Linked DNA regions of Homo sapiens. The protein of the gene in region 1 interacts with the protein of each later gene in a biochemical or structural test. Each region holds a gene or a part of one and is shown on either strand. Other genes may lie near its edges.

The links. The genes of interacting proteins can lie anywhere in the genome.
Region 2: of the proteins of STK38 (region 1) and SENP2, one has a biochemical effect on the other in vitro, tested with the Homo sapiens proteins (one study listed by BioGRID).
Region 3: the proteins of STK38 (region 1) and TRIM25 form a complex in vitro, tested with the Homo sapiens proteins (one study listed by BioGRID).

The regions. Positions count from the first base shown.
Region 1 is NC_000006.12:36,544,478-36,552,379, forward strand, and holds the start of STK38 (serine/threonine-protein kinase 38), read right to left. Parts: upstream 3,003-7,902; 5' UTR 2,713-3,002; intron 809-2,712; exon of another isoform or gene 1-808. UniProt on the Homo sapiens protein: Serine/threonine-protein kinase that acts as a negative regulator of MAP3K1/2 signaling. Converts MAP3K2 from its phosphorylated form to its non-phosphorylated form and inhibits autophosphorylation of MAP3K2.
Region 2 is NC_000003.12:185,610,290-185,617,312, forward strand, and holds part of SENP2 (sentrin-specific protease 2), read left to right. Parts: intron 1-1,361; coding exon 1,362-1,456; intron 1,457-2,317; coding exon 2,318-2,369; intron 2,370-3,055; coding exon 3,056-3,119; intron 3,120-4,274; coding exon 4,275-4,451; intron 4,452-7,023. UniProt on the Homo sapiens protein: Protease that catalyzes two essential functions in the SUMO pathway.
Region 3 is NC_000017.11:56,897,032-56,904,054, forward strand, and holds part of TRIM25 (E3 ubiquitin/ISG15 ligase TRIM25), read right to left. Parts: intron 4,548-7,023; coding exon 4,388-4,547; intron 2,150-4,387; coding exon 2,084-2,149; intron 1-2,083.

The DNA of each region.
Region 1 (7,902 bases):
TGTAAAAACATGTCAAAAGCAAGTGAGAGTTTTGTACTTCCTTGTCTGAAAATTCCTGAAGAAATTGCATATATGTAGTTACATTTTAACAACTGAAATTACTTCAACATAAAAATGTAACAATTTGCCAGGGCACTGGTGCACCCCTGTAATCTCAGCACTTTGGGAGGGAGAGGTAGGAGATTGCTTGAAACCAGCCTGTGCAACATGGCAAAACCCCCGTTGCTACAAAAAAATACAAAAAATTGGCCAGGTGTGGTAGCACACACCTGTAGTCCCAGCTACTCAGGAGGCTGAGGTGGGAGGATTGCTTGAGCTGGAGAGGCAGAGGTTTCAGTGAGTTTGGCTTGTGCCACTGCACGCCAGCCTGGGACAGAGCAAGACTCTGTCTTAAAAACAACAACAACAACAACAAACACAACACAACAATCTGCTAGTATTTAACCCTAAGGCAAACAGTGCCTTCCATATAACAGGCAGTTGAGTAAGTTAATGATTTTTAGTTGTCAACAAAGCTAAAGAATAAAGATGGCCGGACACGGTGGCTCATGCCTGTAATCCCAGAACTTTGGGAGGCTGAGGCAGGTGGATCACCTGAAGTCAGGAGTTGGAGACTAGCTTGGCCAACATGGTGAAAGCCTGTCTCTACTAAAAATACAAAAAAAATTAGCCGGGTGTGGTGGTGGGCACCTGTAATCCCAGCTACTTGGGAGGCTGAGGCAGGAGAATCGCTTGAACCCTGGAGGCACAGGTTGCAGTGAGCCAAGATCACACCACTGCACTCTAGCCTGGGTGAGTGAGACTCCGTCTGGAAAAAAAAAAAAAAAAAAAAAAAAAAGAATAAAGACTACATTTACACTGATGGATATATCAAAAATGCTTTGACTAATTTAAGTAGCTGGCTTGCATTACTACCTAAACTTTTAAAAAGATCAAAAGGACATTAAATGAACTCAAAGATGCTCAAATATTAGACCAACAAATTCTTAAGCAGAGTGTTTTTCAACTTTTAGAGTTTCTAATATAATGATAAAGACTGCACTCTCCTTCCCTTTGACCTTTCTTTAAACCCTCCTCCACTTCCTCTATTGTAATATAAAAAATTTAGCCTAATTCTAATATCCTTTAATCAAAAGATGTAATTAATATTGCCCTATAGCAATTCATAGATTTACTGGGTCAACCAACTTTTCTTAAGACAGGACTATCCATCAGGCTTTCCACAATTCAAGCCTTCCTGCCCTGACCTAGAAGCCATTGGAGGCCTTTGCCCCATTTGTTTCATTCTTCAACTCTGAAGAATTAGGAAATAATAGGTGGCTGAGGAATTCTTCAAAGTTTTAAAAAATTAACAAAAGGAACTGATCCTCATAAAAGTCAGGTGTAAGGCCTGCAAACTCAAAAGGAAGTCAAATGAAAACCATTATGTGATTCAATCTATATGGTTATGCCTGGCTAACTGACTGACTTTACAATGGTACTCTGTGATCACTATAAACAACCCTCTCTCAACAATATGGACTTTATTTCTTTGCGACTGACAATCCATTATCTTTCATTTGGACGATTCAACATTGGAGCTAAGATTATTGCTTAAGTCGCATGTCTAATCTCTCCCACTGAACTGTAAATCCTACTAAACTGTAATCTCTACCTACACTAGAAAGCAAGCACCATGTCTTATACTTGTTTTAATATTCTTCCCCCATTTCATGCACAGTGCTATGCACTTAGCACCTTAAGAAAGATTAACTAGGAAATATACTCATTTTTGATGTCCATTCCTAGGAGTTTATGTGTGATGGGGGATAGGGCTGGGACATGAAATGGTTTGCTATAGCGTTCTCTCCTCTTAGGAGGAAGCTGGTATCTAACGTTTAGGGTGGGGAGGAGAGCCTGTTATCGAGGTGGTGGTTGTTTTATGTTTAGGGAAACCAAATATATTGCCTGGCTAATTCAGAGGCAGGGTGAGCTCAAAGGGTGGAGACACTCAGGGTCTACTTCACTCCAACCCTCCTCGGTGCATTTCAAACAGAACAAGTTTCTCTCCGAGTCTTTTAGTCGTTTCAGAATGAACTGAGAGATCTGGTCTCTCTGCCGGCCGTTCTGCCCGCTTTCTGACACAGACTTTCCTCTAAGCCCTTACCGACTTTTTCCTCTGGCTGTTGCTTTTCCACTCTCTTCTTAAGAATTTTCCCTGCCTTTTCCTGTGATTTGAAGCTTATCTGAAGCCCAGTATCCTAAGACTAACGGAGAAAGGAGCCGACTCAAAGATACCACACCCCAAGGGGGGCTTTCGACATCTCTGCCTCAGACCACAGTTCACAGACCCCAGAAGAAGGAAAAGGAGATAAAAACCGGTGATGACCGAGATCCCTGAGGGACTGACTGGTGGCAGGGAGCAGACAAAGGTGGCAACATGGAAAGGAAAGCCTGGCTCCCGCTCCAACTGCAAAAGGAGAAAGATAAAGGATGGGGTGGAAAGGCTGGGACTGGAAAAATGTGGAGAGGGCCAACAAGGGGCATCTGGAGACGGGGGAAGAAGGGGGTTAAGGAGAGGGGCGGAGAGAGGCCAAGAGGCTGAGAGGTTAGGGCTTGAAAGAGGGCGCCGGCGAGCAGGAGAAAGCCCAAGAAGGAGTCGGAGGTTGGGGAAGGAGGAGATAAAGGAAAAACCCCGGGATGGAGTGAAGACGGCGGCAGCAAGCAACTCACCAGAGCCCAGGGAGAGGCAGGGCTGGGGACGGCGGAGAGCCGCAGACGCCCCTTCGGCCAGTAGTCTCGACTTGAAGGCTGGCGAAGCCCCGGCGGCGGCAGCCAACGAGCCAAAGACGGGAGGGGACGCGTGAGGGACTCTGAGACAGGGGGCAACAGGCGGTTACGGGTGAGGACAACAGGAAGCGTTCCAACTGCCGGAAAAGACGCGAGCGCTGAGGGGCCAAGGCAGCCCGGTCCCCCGCCGCGGAGACGGGCTGGCGCGGCAGCCCGGGGCCGAGACTACGCATGCGCGACTTCCCGGAGCGGCCGGGATTGCGGAACTGCGCTTGCGTGGCCCCGCCCTGCCCCTCCCTTCACCCCCTGCCTAGGGCTGGCTGGACCTGGGTGAGGCCAGATGTGTGAGTGTGAGGCGGTCTCGAAGTAGGCTGGGCTGAGGGGGAAGTTCCATTGTTTTCTTTTGTTTTACTTTTTACTTCGAAATAATTATGGACTCACAAGAAGTTGCAAAATTAATACATACAGGTTCCCTATACCATCACCCACCCAGCTTACCTCAACATTTTTCTTAAGATACAACATTCTCAAAGCCAGGAAATTGACATTCGCACAATACAATTAACTAAACCAATACAATTAACTAAACCAATACAATTAACTTCATTACAGACCACACTCGGATTTAACCTGTTGGGTATGCAGTCATGTGCGTGTGTGTGAGTGTGTGTGTAGTTCTATGAAATGTTGTCACCTGTATAGTTCCCACCCACCCCCCTACCCCGTGTAGAACAGGTCTGCTGGAGCCCTTGGCCCCCCTCCTCTTCCTTAAAGTAAGGACCTTACCTGGGATAAGGTGAGCTCTCATAGGTTTGGGAGGTTACCCAGCGGGCGACCCAGTGTGGACAGAAGAAGGTGCTTTTCAAGGCCACCCAACTCTTATTCTGTACTACTTTTGGGGGTAAAGAGGTCCCAAGTTTAATAGCCTTTGGGCACTTGTCGTTTCTTGAGAATGGAGCACAAAGCCCTCAACTACAAAGTGTCAAGCTCCTGGAAACTAAGATGAACGAGACATGGTCCCTGACTGCCTGCAAAGGGGCCATCTAGGGAGAGAAGGAAGCATGTGCTGCGAGTTATTCATTCATTTCATCTTCAAAGCCCAGTTTCCTTTTGTCTAGCCTCTTAACAAAAATCACTTCTCGCCAGGCGCGGTGGCTCCTGCCTGTAATTCCAGCACTTTGGGAGGTCCAGGTGGGAGGATAGCTTGAGCCTAGGAGTTTGAGACCAGTCTGGGCAACATAAGGAGAATCCACCTCTAAAAAAATTTTTGTAATTGGCCAGCATGGTGGCAAGTGCCTGTGGTCCCACCTACTGTGGAGGCTGAAGCAGGAGGATTGATTGAGTCCAGGAGTTCAGGGCTGCTATGAGCCATGATCATGACACTGCACCCCAGCCTGGGCAACGGAGGGAGACCCTGTCTCAATCAGTCACTACATACATATCAATCAATCACTTCGCCTTTCATTCTCTCTGCCCAGAGGCCCTTCTCCCCAAATGCCTGTTGTCAAAGTCCTACCCATTCTTAAGCTTTTAATAATAGTCCAAGATGTCTGCATAATGCTTTACAGTTTACAAACAACTTTCACTTATTTAATCTCACTTGGTCCTCACTTTGGCAGTGACACACGAGGTTTTGCAGATGAAGTAATTGATACTTAGAGAAGCTAAGTGACTTGTCTGAATTCCCACGGCTAGTAAGCCAAGTAGCCAAGAGGGGAACCCCATTTTCTGTCTGCAAATCCAATGTTCTTTCTCCTCTTCTCTTTCCTCCTTCCAAAGCCCAGCTCAAACCTTATCTTCCTCCTGGAACTTTCCCAGTTTCAGAAGAGGAATTTCACTCTCTCTTCTCTCTTATATATATGTTTTTTTTGGTGGGGGGAGGGGGGTTGTTTTTGTTTTGTTTTGAGACGGAGTGTCGCTCTATCACTAGGCTGGAGTGTAGTGGCACGATCTCGGCTCACTGCAACCTCCACCTCCCAGGCTCAAGTGATTCTCCTGCCTCAGCCTCCTTAGTAGCTGGGACTACAGGACTACAGGCACGTGCCACCATGCCCAGCTAATCTTTTCTTCTTCTTCTTCTTCCTCTTCTTCTTCTTCTTCTTCTTCTTCTTCTTCTTCTTCTTCTTCTTCTTCTCCTTCTCCTTCTCCTTCTCCTTCTTCTTTTTTTTTTTTGAGACGGAGTCTTGCTCTGTTGCCCAGGCTGAAGTGCAGTGGCGCGATCTCTGCTCACTGCACGCTCCGCCTCCCGGGTTCACACCATTCTCCTGCCTCAGCCTCCCGAGTAGCTGGGACTACAGGCGCCCGCCACCAAGCCCGGCTAATTTTTTGTATTTTTAGTAGAGACGGGGTTTCACCATGTTAGCCAGGATGGTCTCGATCTCCTGACTTTGTGATCTGCCCGCCTCGGCCTCCCAAAGTGCTGGGATTACCGGCGTGAGCCACCGCGCCCGGCCTTTTTTTTTTGTATTTTTACTAGAGATGGGGTTTCACCATGTTGGCCAGGATGCTGTCTATCTCTTGACCTCGTGATCTGCCCACCTCCGCCTCCCAAAGTGCTGGGATTACAGGCGTGAGCCACCGCACCCGGCCCTTTCCTCCTATATTAATTTATCTGTACCACAACTCAAATAAGCACTAAAGTTTTCCTCAAAACAGCCCAGCCAAATTATGCTGCTCTTTCTGCAGGAACCCAAAAGGTGACATTTTACCAAGATTCCAATAACTATAATGGACGTTTGTCATTCTTTTTGGCCACTTGAGCATCTGAATCCCTTTCCTATCACCAAAACTGAAATCACTTATACCCATCCCAGACTGTGAGTTGGAAATTAGAAAGATCTGACCTGCATAATTTTGATGTTGTCACATCCCCGTGTTTGTTTGTTTGTTTGTTTGTTTTTTGAGACGGGGTCACCCAGGCTGGGGTCACCCAGGCTGGAGAGCAGCGGCACAATCATAGCTCACTGCAGCCTCGAACTCCTGGGCTCAAGCAATCCTCCTACCTCAGCCTTGTGAGTAGCTGGGAACAAAGGTGCGTACGACCTTGATCGGCTAGTTTTTTGTAGAGTCAGGCCTCACTATGTTGCCCAGGCTGGTCTCAAACTCCTGTTCTCAGGTGATCCTCCTACCTCAGCCTCCCAATGTGCTGGGATTACAGGCATGAACCACCTTACACAGTGAGTCGAGCTTTATTTTAAATTTCGATGTTTTATTCATCGTGGATTTTTTGCATTAATTTTGATTTTTGAAAAACCTTGCATTAAAATGGTCTTTATCTTGATTACTGAGTTTTTTGTGCCCAAGGTGAGTGTCTTGCTCACTTGCTCAACTCACCCGTTCTTTGTTCCAAGGGAATCACCTGCCTCTCCTTTATCAAGCTGACCTATGATTGCTTCACCAGCCAAAACTGAGCCACTTGGAAAGAACCACAACTCTTTTTAAAAACAGGCATCTTACCCCTTAGCAGTGTGTGCCCCACCTATTGGGGCAGTGGCATCAATTGCCTCTGAATATTCCTTTCATAAGAAGACAGGAACTATGCTTGGGTGCCTGCTAGCCCAGTGCTTCTCAAACTGTAACATGCACATAAATCTCCTGGGATTTGGTTAAAGAGCAGATCTGGCTAAAGTCTGGGGCAGAGCTGAGATACTGCATTTCAAACAAGCCCCCAGATGATGCTATCACTGCTGGTCCATGTACTACACTTAGAGTAGCAAGGAACTTGAACATATATCCAAGTAAAAAGTAAGAAGGAGAAAGTGCCCATAATCCAGCAGCCGTAGGTCCCAACCAAGGCCAAGACTAGGGTGAAGCATGTGAGGGCATAACATTTAAGAAGACACTCACTTTCAGGTTCTACTCCTGCATTTGCAGAACCCTGAGAGTGAAGGCAGCCTTACATTGAGTGTCCTAGGAACCTTGCTTGCCTTAGCCTGGTCCCACCCTGGTAACATAACCACCAAGTAATATTTTGGTGGGTATTCCTCCAGACTATCTTTTTTTTTTTCTTTCTGAGACAGGGTCTCGCTCTGTCACCTAGGCTATAGTGCAGTGGTGCGATAACAGCTCACTGCAGCCTTGACCTCCTGAGCTCAAGCAATCTGCCTGCCTCAGCTTCCCAAAGTGCTGGGATTACAGGTGTGAGCCACTGCACCTGGCCTTGAGACTAGTGTGCATGAGTGTGTGTGTTTTGTTTTGTTTTGTTTTGTTTTTGAGACGGAATCTCGCTCTGTCACCCAGGCTGGAGTGCACTGATGTGATCTTGGGTCACTGCAACCTCCACCTCCCGGCTTCAAGAGATTCTCCTACCTCAGCCTCCCGAGTAGCTGGGATTACAGGCGTGCACCACTATGCTTGGCTAATTTTTGCAGTTTTAGTAGAGAGGGGATTTCGCCATATTGGCCAGGCTGGTTTCAAACTCCTGACCTCAAATGATCCACCCGCCTCAGCCTCCCAAAGTGCTGGGATTACAGGCGTGAGCCACCGTGCCCGGCCGTGTGTGTGTATTTTAAAAGAGTCTCACTGGGTTGCCCAGGCTGGAGTGCAGTGACACAGTCATGGCTCACTGCAGGCTCAACCTCCCAGGCTCAAGTGATCCTCCTGCCTCAGCTTTCCAAGTAGCTGGTCTACAGACATGCACTGCCGCACCTGGCTAATTTTTAAATTTTTTGAAGAGATGGGGTCTCCCTATGATGCCCATGCTAGGCTCCTGGATTCAAGTAATCCTCCCACCTTGGCCTCTGAAAGTGCTGGGATTACAGGCATGAGCCACTGTGTCCAGCTGAGACTACTTTCTAATACACATATAAATGCATGGAATCATAGTATATATGCTTATATTGTATGTAATTATATCTACACATATGCGGTATTATACTGTTATTTGTTCATTTATATCTAAATTGTGATGTTTTAAATCTTCAAGCTCTATTTAATCTCACAAATTCATTTAATCTTGTTCCTCTAAAATATACCCAGTGGCTTTCTCTGAGTGGAGGAATTGTGAGTGGTTATATTTTCTTCTTTATACTTTTCTGTACTTTCCAAATTTTCTACACTGGACCCCATAACCTTTTAATTAAGTTTTTATTTTTATCAAAGTAATACATGTACAGACTTGAAAAAGATTAAATG
Region 2 (7,023 bases), on another chromosome or scaffold:
AGCTGGGATTACAGGCGTCCACCGCCACGCCCAGCTAATTTTTTGTATTTTTGGTAGAGATGGGGCTTCACCATGTTGGCCAGGCCGGTCTCGAACACCTGATCTCAGGTAGTCCACCAGCCTCAGCCTCCCAGAGTGCTGGGATTACAGGCGTGAGCCACCGCACCCGGCCTACTATCTAGCTTTTGAATGCAGAAATAACAGATTGTTTGCGAATAATCAGTTGTGAACTTTAAAAAAAAATTCTTTTGGTTTAGTCAGAATGTCAGTATTTTCTCCATTTTGACCAGCCATATGTTGGAAACAGCAGTATGTTTAACGAACTCTTAACTTTGTCATGTTGGCGAAACCCTCAAACTATTTTTGCTTTTTAAAGTTGCTGCTTTGGCTGGGCACAGTGGCTCACACCTGTAATCCCAGCACTTTGGGAGGCCGAGGTGGACGGATCACGAGGTCAGGAGATCAAGATCATCCTGGCTAACACGGTGAAACCCCATCTCTACTAAAAAATACAAAAAATTAGCTGGGCATGGTGGCTGGCACCTGTAGTCCCACCTACTCGGGAGGCTGAGGCAGGAGAATGGCGTGAACCCGGGAGGCGGAGCTTGCAGTGAGCAGAGATTGTGCCACTGCACTCCAGCCTGAGCTACAGATCGAGACTCCGTCTCAAAATAAATAAATAAATAATTAAAGTTCCTGCTTCTGGCTGGGTGTGGTGGCTCACACCTGTAATCCCAGCGCTTTGGGAGGCCGAGGCAGGTGGGTCACTGGAGGTCAGGACTTCGAGACCAGCCTGACCAACATGGCGAAACCCCATGTCTACTAAAAATACAAAAATTAACCAGGTGTAGTGGCGTGTGCCAGTAATCCCAGCTACTTGGGAGGCTGAGGCAGGAGAACCACTTGAACCTGAGAGGTAGAGATTTCAGTGAGGCCATGATCACACCACTGCACTCCAGCCTGGGCGACAGTGCGAGACTCCGTCTCAAAAAACAAAAAGTTCTTGCTTTTAATGTATTGTTTCAGGATCCATTTAAATACATAGCTTAAAAAGTTTTTTATCTTTTAATCTGAGTTTTATCACACTGAGATTTTTCAGTTAGTGCATCACTGGGGATTCAGAACCTCTGATTTTACAAACAGAGAAACTGGAGGTTAGGTGACCTGGCTGAAATATTATTAGAATCATGATTAGACTCCTTTTATCCTAGTCCCACATAGTTGCTTCCTTTCTGTTGTAATTTGATATAATAGTGTAATCAATCACCCCTATTTGGAGAAGCTTGCTGGACAGAGATAATGCATATTAATGGTAGACTTTGCTTTTGTATCTGATCTCCCTCACTTTTTGTGTTTCTAAGTTCTCAAAGAAGTCAGATGGACACATTAAAGACCAAAGGCTGGGGGGAAGAGCAAAATCACGGAGTCAAAACAACTCAGTTTGTTCCAAAACAATGTGAGTTCCCAGATTTAGCCTTGTCTTAATATATTGACCTTAGTTCATGCTACAGTGTTCATATGAGGTAGAAAATTGACATTCAAGTGTAGATGGTGTACCAAAATACTGTCAAATCTCACAGCATTGGGCCGGGCGCGGTGGCTTACGCCTGCAATCCCAGCACTTTGGGAGGCCAAGGCAGATGGATCACCTGAGGTCAGGAGTTCAAGACCAGCCTGGCGAACATGGTAAAACCCCATCTCTACTAAAAATACAAAAATTAGCCAGGCATGGTGGCACTTGCCTGTAATCCCAGCTACTCAGGAGGCTGAGGAAGTAGAATTGCCTGAACCTGGGAGGTGGAGGTTGCAGTGAGCCAAGATCACGCCACTGCACTCCAGCCTGGGTGACAGTGAGACTCTGTCTCAAAAAAAAAAAAAAAACCTCACAGCATTGACTGGGGCTTATCTAGGAATTTAGTAGAAAAGCTGTTTCAGGGTGAAGTAGATTCATAACATGGCTCTGGATTATTATTCCTAAGCTGCTAGATAGTAGCAACTATTTTGTGAGCTGAAATTTTATTATATTCCTTATATAACAATTTCCTTATACTTCTCCACTTACTGTCCACTAAATGACAGCTTACCAGATAAGCAGATATCACTCAGTTTATAGTAAAGATTATATTTAAACAGCAAAGATATGTATGCATTTTTTTAGGCAACTTAGTATATAGGGAGGCTAGTGTCTTTGGAATTCACTGTAGCATTTCAATGTAGAGGAATGTCTTGATGTTGTGGAAACTCTGTAAGCTGAAATTCTAACTATATTATTCATCGATGAAGGAAACATTTAATCTTTTCTTTACCATCCTCACAGATAGACTTGTTGAAACAAGGGGACCTCTATGTTCATTGAGAAGTGAAAAGAGGTACGTACATTCAGTTCATTCTACACTTTCTTTTAATATATATTTTCTTACTTTATAAGCTGTATTTATGAGTAAGCAGTTCTGAGGAATTGTGAACTCTCTTGAGTTCTGGTAGTTGGTCAGCATATAGGGTAGATAGGTAGCTAGCTGTTGTGTCAGATGCCCACCCTAGCCTGGTGGGTTGAGGGGGGTGCCCCTTATCTCCCAGGCGTCAGGGGTTGGGAGAAACACATGCTTCTTAGATGGGAGTTTGGTTGGAGTGGGGATGTCTAGTGTCAGTGTCTTTAGGATAGGAACAGTAAAGGCAGCTCTGCATGCTTTAGGATTTTGGGATGATGGTTTATAGCAGAGTTTGTAAACTATGGCCCATGGGCCAAATCTGGTCTACTTGCCTATTTTTGTATAGTAAATTTCTATTGGAACATGCGAATTCATTTACATACTGTCTGGCTGCTTTTAAATTACAGTGGCAGAGTTGCCACGATGTGCCCAAGACCATAAAACCTGCAAAGCCTAAAATACTGTCTGTTCCTTTTCAGAAAAGTTCGTTGACTCCTGGTTTAGAGTATTATGTAAACTCAACACAATTTTTATGTACAAATTACGAAATCTTATTTCTAAAACTAGGATGTACTAGGTTTGAATCATCTAGCAGAAGTCTATCATCTCTCAATTTTTTTCCTTAGGTGTTCAAAGGGGAAAATTACTGATACAGAGACGATGGTCGGAATCAGATTTGAAAATGAAAGTGTAAGTAAAAATCCTAGTTACATTTGATACCTGTTTACTTATGTAACTTATGTTTTGGTGCCCATGAAAAGCAAGAAAAAGTATATATATATAACTTTGATTGTTAATTCTGTTGTTTTTCTTTAAAAAAGCAGCAAGCCAGCCAGTCACAGTGGCTCATGCCTGTAATCCCAGAACTTTAGGAGGCCAAGGCAGAAGGATCACTTGAGCCCAGGAGTTTGAGACCAGCCTGGGCAACATAGTGAGACTGTCTCCACAAAAAAATTTAAAAGTTAGCCAGGCATGGTGGCATGTCTGTAGTCCCAGCTACTTGGGAAGCTAAGGTGGGAGGATTGCTTGAGCCCAGGAGGTCAAGGCTGCAGTGAGCTGTGATCACACCATAGCACTCCAGCCTAGGTGACAGAATGAGACTCTGTCTCAAAAAAAAAAAAAAAAAAAAAGGCAGGAAGCATTGAAAATACACAACTTTTTTCTTCCTTCTGAGTTGTTGGAGTTTTGCCTCTGTACAGTAGCCACCTTTGTTTATGAGAGACCAATCTGCCTCCATACCAACATGTTACCTACATTTTATGGCTTCTTAGGGAGAATTTCTTAAAAATCATACATCTCTGGAAAGAGATGATATGTTCTGGGTTGCTGGCAGAATTCTATTTGTTTACTACAATTGTGGTTATATAGGTGTTCATTCAAATTAAGTGGTACATTAATGTTTTGTGCATTTTCTGTAATATCAAATGACTTTTTTCAAGGATAAACTAGAACCAAGTTGAGTTACTATAAAGATAGTAGGGATTTATTCTGAGTGATGGGATTGTGGGTCATATTTTTTGCTGTTTAAAACTTTCATAATATCTTTTAAACATACTAATTTTAATTGTGATAGGAGAACTGAAAATACTTTTCTTGCTACTTCCAGGGAAGGTGGTGAGTGTTCTGTTTGATGGTTCATAACTGAGGGTCCTGTGAGGCCTAGGTCTGGAGCTTTTTTTGCTCCCCCTTGCAGGGACAGACAGATAGGGTAAATCTACTCACTTGGGGGATTTGCTAATTCTCTTTTCTTTCACATTAGTGGCAGTTTTATATTTCATGTGTAATCTGTGTTTATATTTGCAAGTATCAAACATGTCAGTAGAATTTAGATAATTTTTTGATCAGAGGAGGGGATACCAACTGGAGCCTGACCTATCAGAAGAAGTGTCGGCCCGACTCCGCCTGGGCAGTGGAAGCAATGGCTTACTCAGGAGGAAAGTGTCAATAATTGAGACAAAGGAAAAGAATTGCTCAGGCAAAGAGAGGGACAGAAGAACGGACGATCTCCTTGAACTTACAGAGGTATTGTTCTTTGTATTGATCCTAAAAAGAGGCATGTCTTTAAATAACCTCAGTTATTCTAACTTGAATGTTTTGTTTTGAGGACTTTCTCCAGGCTAGGGGTGAATATATGAAAACATGTCAGGTCCATGGTCTGTTGATTCACTTTGACTACATTGATCTTTAGTGAGGCATGATCATTAGTGGCCTAAGGGATCAGATTGATATTCAGCAAATGGGGAGTCGACACAGTCATCTCATATCTTGGAATACAACAGATTCTTTGTAAATTCTAACCTTCAAATATGTTGAGTTATATAGTATGGGTTTGGCATTAAGAATAAGTTCATTGCATTTTTTTTTTGAAAGTTATTATAGTTTACTAAAATGCCCCCTTTGTTGATTATTGCATTTGAAAATAGTAAAAACTTACAGAACATAAAGAATGAAGGTAGTTAAAATTCTTATTTTAAAGATGTGCCCACATCTTGGCTTCCTCCACAATGTTGCCCTAGTAGGCAAATCTCTTGAATACTTACTGTTATATTGGGCATGTAGGTGGAGAGAGAGATCCATAAAATGGTGAAGCTGTGTGCAGTGGGAAGCAGCATATATTTAGAAGAAAATAATTTCTTTTTTTTGAGACAGAGTTTCGCTCTTGTTGCCCAGGCTGGAGTGCAATGGCGCGATCTTGGCTCACTGCAACCTCTGCATCCTGGGTTCAAGTGATTCTCCTGGCTCAGCCTCCCTAGTAGCTGGGATTACAGGCACCTGCCACCATGCCCAGCTAATTTTTGTATTTTTAGTAGAGACCGGGTTTCACCATGTTGGCTAGGCTGGTCTCGAACTCCTGACCTTAGATGATCTACCCACCTCGGCCTCCCAAAGTGCTGGGATTATAGGCGCAAGCCACTGCCCCCGGCCTAGAGGAAAATAATTTCTATTGGGTTTATAGATTTAGTTTTGTATCTTAAATAATGCATTTATCTGCATAATTCTTTAGTATGATGAAGCCATTTATTCCATAAGGAGTCAATTGCTAGACTGCTGGGTGGTTTCCAAGTTTCTGCCTGTTTGCTTATTCTCTTCATGTCAAAAAGGATGGTGTGACCCCTTAGATGTCCTAATCTTATTTTGATGTTTTATTTATTTATTTATTTTTGAGATAGAGTCTCGCTCTGTTGGCAGGCTGGAGTGCAGTGGCACAATCTCAGCTTACTGCAACCTCTGCCTCCCAGGTTCAAGTGATTCTTCTGCCTCAGCCTCCTGCGTAGCTGGGACTACAGGCGCGTGCCACCACGCCCAGCTAATTTTTGTATTTTTAGTAGAGATGGGGTTTCACCATGCTGGCCAGGCTGGTCTCGAACTCCTGACCTCATGATCCGCCCGTCTTGGCTTCCCAAAGTGCTGGGATTACAGGCGTGAGCCACCACACCCAGCCTTTTTTGATGTTTTAAAAGTTTAAAGGCGAGAATGGGCGTGGTGGCTCACGCCTGTAATCCCAGCACTTTGGGAAGCCAAGATGGGCGGATCATGAAGTCAGGAGTTCGAGACCAGCCTGGCCAGCATGGTGAAACCCCGTCTCTACCAAAAATACAAAAAAATAGCTGGCATGGTGGTGTGCACCTGTAATTCCAGCTAATCAGGAGACTGAGGCATGAAAATTGCTTGAACCTGGGAGGCAGAGGTTGCAGTGAACTGAGATCATGCAGCTGCATGCACTCCAGCCTGGGTGACAAAGTGAGAATCTGTCTCAAAAAAAAAAAAAAAAGAAGGGCCAGGCTGGTGGCTCACACCTGTAATCCCAGCACTTTGGGAGGCCGAGATGGGCAGATCACGAGGTCAGGAGATCGAGACCATCCTGGCTAACACAGTGAAACCCCGTCTCTACTAAAAATACAAAAAATTAGCCGGGCGTGGTGGCGGGCGCCTGTCATCCCAGCTACTCGGGAGGCTGAGGCAGGAGAATGGCGTGACCCCGGGAGGCGGAGCTTGCAGTAAGCCGAGATGGCGCCACTGCACTCCGGCCTGGGAGACTGAGCGAGACTCCGTCTCCAAAAAAAAAAAAAAACGTTTAAAGTGGAAATCAGGAGTTTACTATTATGAAGGGAGCAAAGTCCAGGAAATTAGATGCACCTGGGTTCAAATCTTCTTCTACCTTTTAATAATTATATGACTTTGAATATGTAAAATAAATTCTCTGGGTTTCAATTTTCTTCTCTATAAAATGATAATAATGTCTTCCTCACTAATATGGATCAATGATGTGCTTCAAGCATCTAACACCATGTTTGACTCATAGTGGTTAATACGTAGTAGTAGGAAAATTGAGACTATACTTTAGATGTAAATATTATTATTAAATTATTGTTTCCACAAGCTAATAAGTGAACCAGGATTTGTTGTAAGTATTACTTACAACAATTAAGTAAGGCTGCTTTGTAGTTATAAGTTAAAATATTTTCAGGGCTGGTGCAGTGGCTCATGCCTATAATCTCAGCACTTTGGGAGGCCAAGGCAGGTATTGCTTGAGCCCAGGAGTTTGCAACCAACTTGGGCAATATAATGAGGCCCCATCTCTATCACTAAAAAT
Region 3 (7,023 bases), on another chromosome or scaffold:
GAGCCCAGGAGTTCGAGGCTGCAATGAGTTCTGTTCGCACCACTGCACTCCAGCCTAGGCAAAAGAGCGAGACTCTGTCTCTTAAAAAATAGTAAATGCAAATTCTTGGGCCCCAAGCCAGAGCCACTGAATCATAAAGGCTGGGGGTGAGACCCAGCAATCTGTGATGTACAAGCCCTCCAGGTGAGTCCAAAGTCCACTCAAGTGGGCTAGAAGATCCCAGCTTCCTTCTTTGCCACCTTCCACAACACTGGAACAAAAAGGGGCGTTTTTGAAATCATATCCCTGCCCACCTGCAGGACACCTGACATTACAGATAAGCCCTGCTCTCTCCTATTACCCTCTCCCTCCCCCAGACCCCCATCACACCACAAAGCCCCCTTGCTACCGCTTCTCCTACTTCGAAGTCACATCACTCACAGTCGCTCACTCTCCCATTTCCTCCCCTTCTGCCACTTTCCCACCCACTCCCTGTGGACCAGCATCTTGGGAGGCCCAGGCTGTGACATCAATCTAGGGCACAGGCACCTCCCTCATCACCTACCCTTAGACATCTCTCTGCACTGGGACTACTCCATACCCCCTCCCCTATTTCCCCATTTCAGCCTAGAGGAGCCTTGATTCATTCCCGAACTTTATTCTCCAGGGTGTCATTCTGCTGTGACATGAGGACCTCACCTCACTGGGGAACACACCTGCCTGCTGGCCGGCATCCCTACCTCATTCATACTAAGGGAGGAGCTTTCAGAGGAAGGTGACTGGGGAAGGACACAGGTCAACAGTACCTTTCCACTTCCTCTTTCACTCCTCTTTTCACACAAAGTACCCTTCGAGGTTTTCCGGCCCAGCTAAGGGCTCCCTCCTCCATCTGCACCAGGCATCCCAGCCCTGACTCTGTTCCATTCGGGGACCGATACCACACTCTGCCTGCTACAGGTGACCTGAACACTAAGCACAAGCAACAACAACAAAGAGCAAGCCCTGGCTCTCTCATCCCCCCAACACCAGCAGTGTGCAGCCAGCCCTCCTGGGTTCACACCAACTTTTCAGGGAAGCAATGACAGCTAACATTTCAGTGGTATATGGACATGTCAGTGGTATATGAACATGTCAGCGGTATATGGGCATGTCAGCGGTATATGGACATCTCAGCGATATATGAACATGTCAGCGGTATATGGACATGTCAGCAGTATATGGACATCTCAGCGGTATATGGACATGTCAGCAGTATATGAACATCTCAGCGGTATATGGACATGTCAGCGGTATATGGACATCTCAGTGGTATATGGACATCTCAGTGGTATATGGACATCTCAGTGGTATATGGCTCATAAAGAGCTCTCACAATCAGTGTCCCCTCATCACTCAGAATCATCCTGTGGCCTCGATATCACTATTGTCCACATTTGCAGAACAGGACCACTCTTCTCCTCAACCCCCATGTCAATGGCAGGTGCCTGCCCAATGAGGGGGATAGTACCCCTAGGAGGGCAAAAATGGATCCTTGGGGGAGGGGGAGTAAAAAAGATTACTCTTTTTATGTGTAAAAGCACAAACATAAACAGTTATGCAGTAGATGGGTGGTATTAAAATTTCATGGGTTGTAATTAGGAAAAAAATTTTCTCAAATGGTTCTGGGGATGAGCAGGAGGAGGGTAACAGTGAGAAACCAAAAAAAAAAAAACAGTTGAGAAACATGGTAATAGCAGAAGCCCATTACAACCCAGAGACTTAACACTGCTGAGATGCCAAGGAGGTTTAGCCTCCACCCTTCCTGGACCGCCATCAGTCTCCTTGCCCAAGGCTCTGCCCAAGGACTTGGGTATAGTAAATATTTCTCAAAACAAGCCAGCCTCAGGCATCTTGCTGTTCCAGGCAGCCCAAACGTGCAATGCTGATGGACAGCGGAGCTTCTGCCACAGCCCTACAGCCCCCCGCAGTGGGGACTGCCACCAACTTCTTTCCCACTGAGGTCCAGGCCCCACAGTGACTCGGGATGGGCCGGAAGTGACTTGGCCAGAGCCTGGGGAGGCCACAGCCATGCTGTTGCCATGGAGACAGGGGTGGGGCTACTTACTGGAGACCTTCTTCACAGGGCGTGTGGATTTGTGTGTGGACGCTGGGTCATGCTCTCCAGGGTCACCTGTGTCAGAGAAGAAGGGCTCAGTGTGTGCGGCTCCTCTCACTGACCCTAGCAGCCAGCTTTGCCATGGGTCGGTGGGCAGGCAGAGGGTTTACACAGACAGCCATTTCCTCCGACCTTCCCCATCCCATCGCTTACAAGAGCTACAAACAAGGTGATCTAAGAACCAGTTTGGTGTATTCCCTTTTTTCTCTGACTTTTTAAAATGTAGCAAGGGCCAAGTCTTTTTTCCACCAGCACCCAGCTCTGTGGCCTCTGAGACTTCTCTGAGCTTTGGTTTCTTCGAGCACACAATGGGGATGACTTCACCTTGCTCATGGTTGATGTGACTCCTGAATGAGATCAAGGTCATGTAGCGGAGGCTGGGTCAACACTTGTTCCTTTCCCACTATTCTTTCTCTCCCCTCCTCCCACATACCAGCCACCTATAGCTTTGCCCCCACGCAGCACTTCCACAATGGGGCTGCACCGCCACCGATTTCAGAAGCCCTTCTGCAAGGACACTCGGCAGGCCAAGCTGAGATTCAAGCCCAATCTTGGACTACACAACAGAGATTTACTATGGGCCAGGCTCTGTGCTAGGCACTAGGGAAATAGCGTTGAAGAAAAATCAGACAGGCCAGGCACAGTGGCTCAAGCCTGTAATCCCAATGATTTGGGAGGCCAAGGCAGGAGCATCACTTGAAGCCAGGAGCTCAAGATCAGTCTGGACAACTTAGCGAGACCCTGGCTCTACAAAAAAAATTTTTTAGGCTGGGCCCGGTGGCTCACGCCTGTAATCCCAGCATTTTGGGAGGCTGAGGCAGGCAGATTACTTGAGGTCGAGAGTTCAAGACTAGCCTGACCAAAGTAGTGAAACCATGTCTCTATTAAAAATACAAAAATTAGCCAGGTGTGGTGGCACATGCCTGTAATCCCAGCTACTCAGGAGGCTGAGGCAGGAGAAATGCTTGAACCTGGGTGGCAGAGGTTGCAGTGAGCAGAGATTGGGCCATTGCACTCCAGCCTGGGTGACAGAGCGAGACTCCGTCTCAAAAAAAAAAAAATTTTTTTTTAATTAGCCGGGCATGATGGTGTGTATCTATAGTCCTAGCTAGTCGGGAGGCTGAGGCAGAGGGATCACTTAATCCCAGGAGTTTGAGGTTACAGTGAACTATAATCACGCCATTGCATTCCGGCCTGGGCGACAGAGCAAGATCCTGAATAAATAAATAAATAAGCCGCAGCCCCTGACCTCACAGAGATCACAACCTAATGAGGGAGATATACGGGGATCCCAAGGAAGAATGCGATACTACCCATGCAAGAGTCCCAAGAGGATGACAAGGACCCTGGGCCCAGTCTGAGGAGTGGGAGCAGTGGCAGGGGAGGCTGGCTATAAATGTAATGTTTTGCTGATCTTTGAAGGGTGAGAGGAGTTAATTAGTGAAGACGGTGGAGTTCAAGCCTTCTGGAGAGTGGGGAAGAGCAAACACAAAGGCCCTGTAGCAGGAAGTTTTGCATATTTGAGGAACTGAATGCAGAGAGATGCACCAGAGGAGAGTGGGGGGCGCCTTGGGGCTGGAGAGAGACCAACAGGGCTTGACCTGGCATCTAGACCAGGGTCAAGGGTTTGGTCTGCATCAGGGAGTAATAGGAAGCCTAGTGAGAGGGCAAAGCAGAATAGGTCCCAGGACATGAGCTCTGCATCATGAAAATCCCTCTCTGGCTGCAGCGGCAGATGCAGAGGGTTTAGGAAGCTGCTACAGTCATGGGGCGACAGGTGATGGCAATGGAGAACAGGCAAGCAGTGCTAGGATCAGCAGACTGAGTCAGGAGATTGAAAGAAGTGAAATTTGGCAATGGATTGGATATGGGGTGATGAAAAGGGGGTGTCAAAGAGGAATTCTAGATTTCTCCCCCAAACGGGCCATTCCCCCACCAAACACAATAACAAGCCCTAGCTTATTCAAAACCCATCCAAGTTGGCCTCAAGATCACAGGCCAAAAGAGCCTATCTGTCCAGAAAGTCCAAGCATTAACATCAAGTCCCCAAAAATGCTTTAGGAAAGATCCTAAAATGTCAGGATGAAGCAGACTCCCCACCAGCCTCCAGACAGAGGGCGGATGTTTCAGGAGCCCTGAAACTCAGGCCCCAGTGCTCGGGATCACGCCCCAATCTCCCATCCCAAAACATTTAGGGGACCCATCGGGTTGCAGGGTTCCACAGGGGGCAGCATAGGGGGCTGCTAAGGTCACCTGAACTGGGGGTGGGCTCCTGGAGCCGCCCGATGCACTGCTTCAGCTCGTTTTTGAGGTCTATGGTGCTCTGGTGGATGCCTTTTATCAGCTTGTGGTTCAGTTCCACCTCGGGGATGTAGACTGGCTTTGTTGAGATTCCTCGCAGTTTTGATGCTTTCTGGAACATGCCAGGGGGTTAGTGCAGGCAGCTCTGGTGAAACGGGGACCTGGGCTCAGTCCTCACCAACCCCAGGAGGCTCTCCCCTATGCCCAAGAGTGCTAAGTCCAATTGGCCTTCTCAAATTACAGGCCAGAGGTCACCAGGAGTTTAAATGACACTTGAAGACACAGTAATCTGGAGCTGGAGGGGACCCCAGAGGTCACTCATCTTACAGATGGGGAAACTGAGGTCTAGACATGGCAGGAACTCCACCAGCTAGGGGCACAGACACAGCTGGGACTGAGATCTTCCGATCCCCCAGGACAATGTTCTTTCCACTTTTCCAGCTAAAGGTGGAAAAGCACAGGAAACTCAGGACCACCCCAATCCTAGGGGAACAGCTCTAATCACACATTCTGGTAACAGACAGGGACATCTCAAGGGATGTGGATTGCAGCCAGGGAATATCTTATGGGAAGGGAGGGTCTTCCTGGAAGTCCCAAACTTTGAGAAAAATAGGGTTGTACAGTATCAAGAAGCCTAGATGTGCACTCAGATCCTTCGAGAGCTCGGGGCAGCTGCTCCAACAGACAGGAATGAACACTTGGGATGAAACTTAACGCCATCCAGACTAGGCACGCATCAGGCCTCAGTGCACAGAGACAAGGTTCCCATTCACTCCTGCACTGTCTCCCCACCCCCTGATCTGAACAAGGAATCTGGGTCTTTCAGGTATAGCTGCAGGTCACTCAATCAATGGGGCACACCACTATATGCCAAGCACTCTGCTATGTGCTGGTCAGATTGGCAGGAGGATGAATGGGGGTAATAAGAGATGGGCTTACAGTCAAAACAGCCATGAAAAAATGCACATCTGAAACAACATCACCCAATGTTACTGTAGAAACAGTGTGGCATGCTTGGGAACACCGATACGGCATGGCAATGGGATCCAAGGCCCTGGAAGGATACGACTCACTAGGCAAGAATGCCCAGCATGGCATCCCACCCACACCCACTGTGTCTGGGGAACAGTGAGTGCATAGGGCATGAGCCAGGGATGGATGATATGAGATGAGACTGCTGGCACAGGCGGGGCCCAGTCACCTAGGACCCTGCAGGCCATGTTAAGGGACATGAGGCCAGAAACAGCAGGGGGCCCATGCTTTAGACAGATACTTTGATACAGTCTGGATGTTTGTCCCCTCCAAATCTCATGTTGGAATGTGATTCCCAGTGTTGGAGGTGGGGCAGGGTGGGAGGTGTTCGTGTCGTGGGGGTGGATTCCCCATGCACCGCTTGGTGCCCTCCCCATGGTAACAGGTGAGTTCTTGCACAAACTGGTTGTTTAACGGAGGCTGGCACTTCCTCCTCTGTCTCTTGTTCCCTCTCTAACCCTGTGACATGCCTGCTCCCAGCTTCACCTTCTGCCATGAGTAAAAGCTTCCTTCCTCACCAAAGGCCTAACTAAAAGCCAAACAGATGCTGGTGCCATGCTTGTACAACCTGTAGAACTGTGAGCCAAATAAACCTCTTTTCTTTATAAATTACTCAGTCTGGTTGGGCGCAGTGGCTCACACCTGTAATCTCAGCACTTTGGGAGGCCGAGGTGGGTGGATCACCTGAGGTCAGGAGTTCGAGACCAGCCTGGCCAACATGGTGAAATCTCGTCTCTACTAAAAATACAAAATTAGCTGGGCATGGTGGCGTGCGCCTGTAATCCCAGCTACTCAGGAGGCTGAGGCAGGAGGATCACTTGAGCCTGGGGGCAGAGGTTTCAGTGAGCAAGATCACACCACTACACTCCAGCCTGAGCAACAAGAGTGAAACTCCATCTCAAAATAAATACATAAAATAAATAAATAACTCAGTCTTAGGTACTCCTTTATAGCAATGCAAAAGGGACTACTAACACACACTTCCAGGAGCTGCTGGAGGAAGGATGGGAGGAAGAGGTGGAGTGTGAGTGGCAGGCAACGTTCTAAGATGGCCCTCAAGCCCCCGACCCCGACTGATGTACATACCCTATAGTATGCCCTCCCCTTCAGTATCGGCAGGACGGTGAATGAAATAGGATATCACTCCTGTGATTAGGTTATGTCATGTGGCAAAGGGGGTGGAATATTGCTGGTGTAATTAGCATCTCAAATCAATTGATTTTGAGTTCATCAAAGGGCAATTATCTGGGGTGGGCCTGACTTAATCAGGTAAAAGACCTTAAAAGAGGGATTGCATCTTTCTAGAGGAGAAATTCTCATGCTGGCCTTGAAGAAGTCAGCTATCAATCTGAGAGACAGCCAGCAGGAAATTGCGGGGGGCCTCAGTCCTACAACCATAAGGAACTAAATTCTGCCAACAACCACATGAGCCTGGAAGACAACCCTGAGCTCCAAAGGAAACAGCCTGGCCATCCCTCGCAGACTGTAGCCTGGTGAGACCCTATGCAGGCCACCCATAAAGCCATGTCCAGATTCCTGAGCCAGAGAAACTCTGA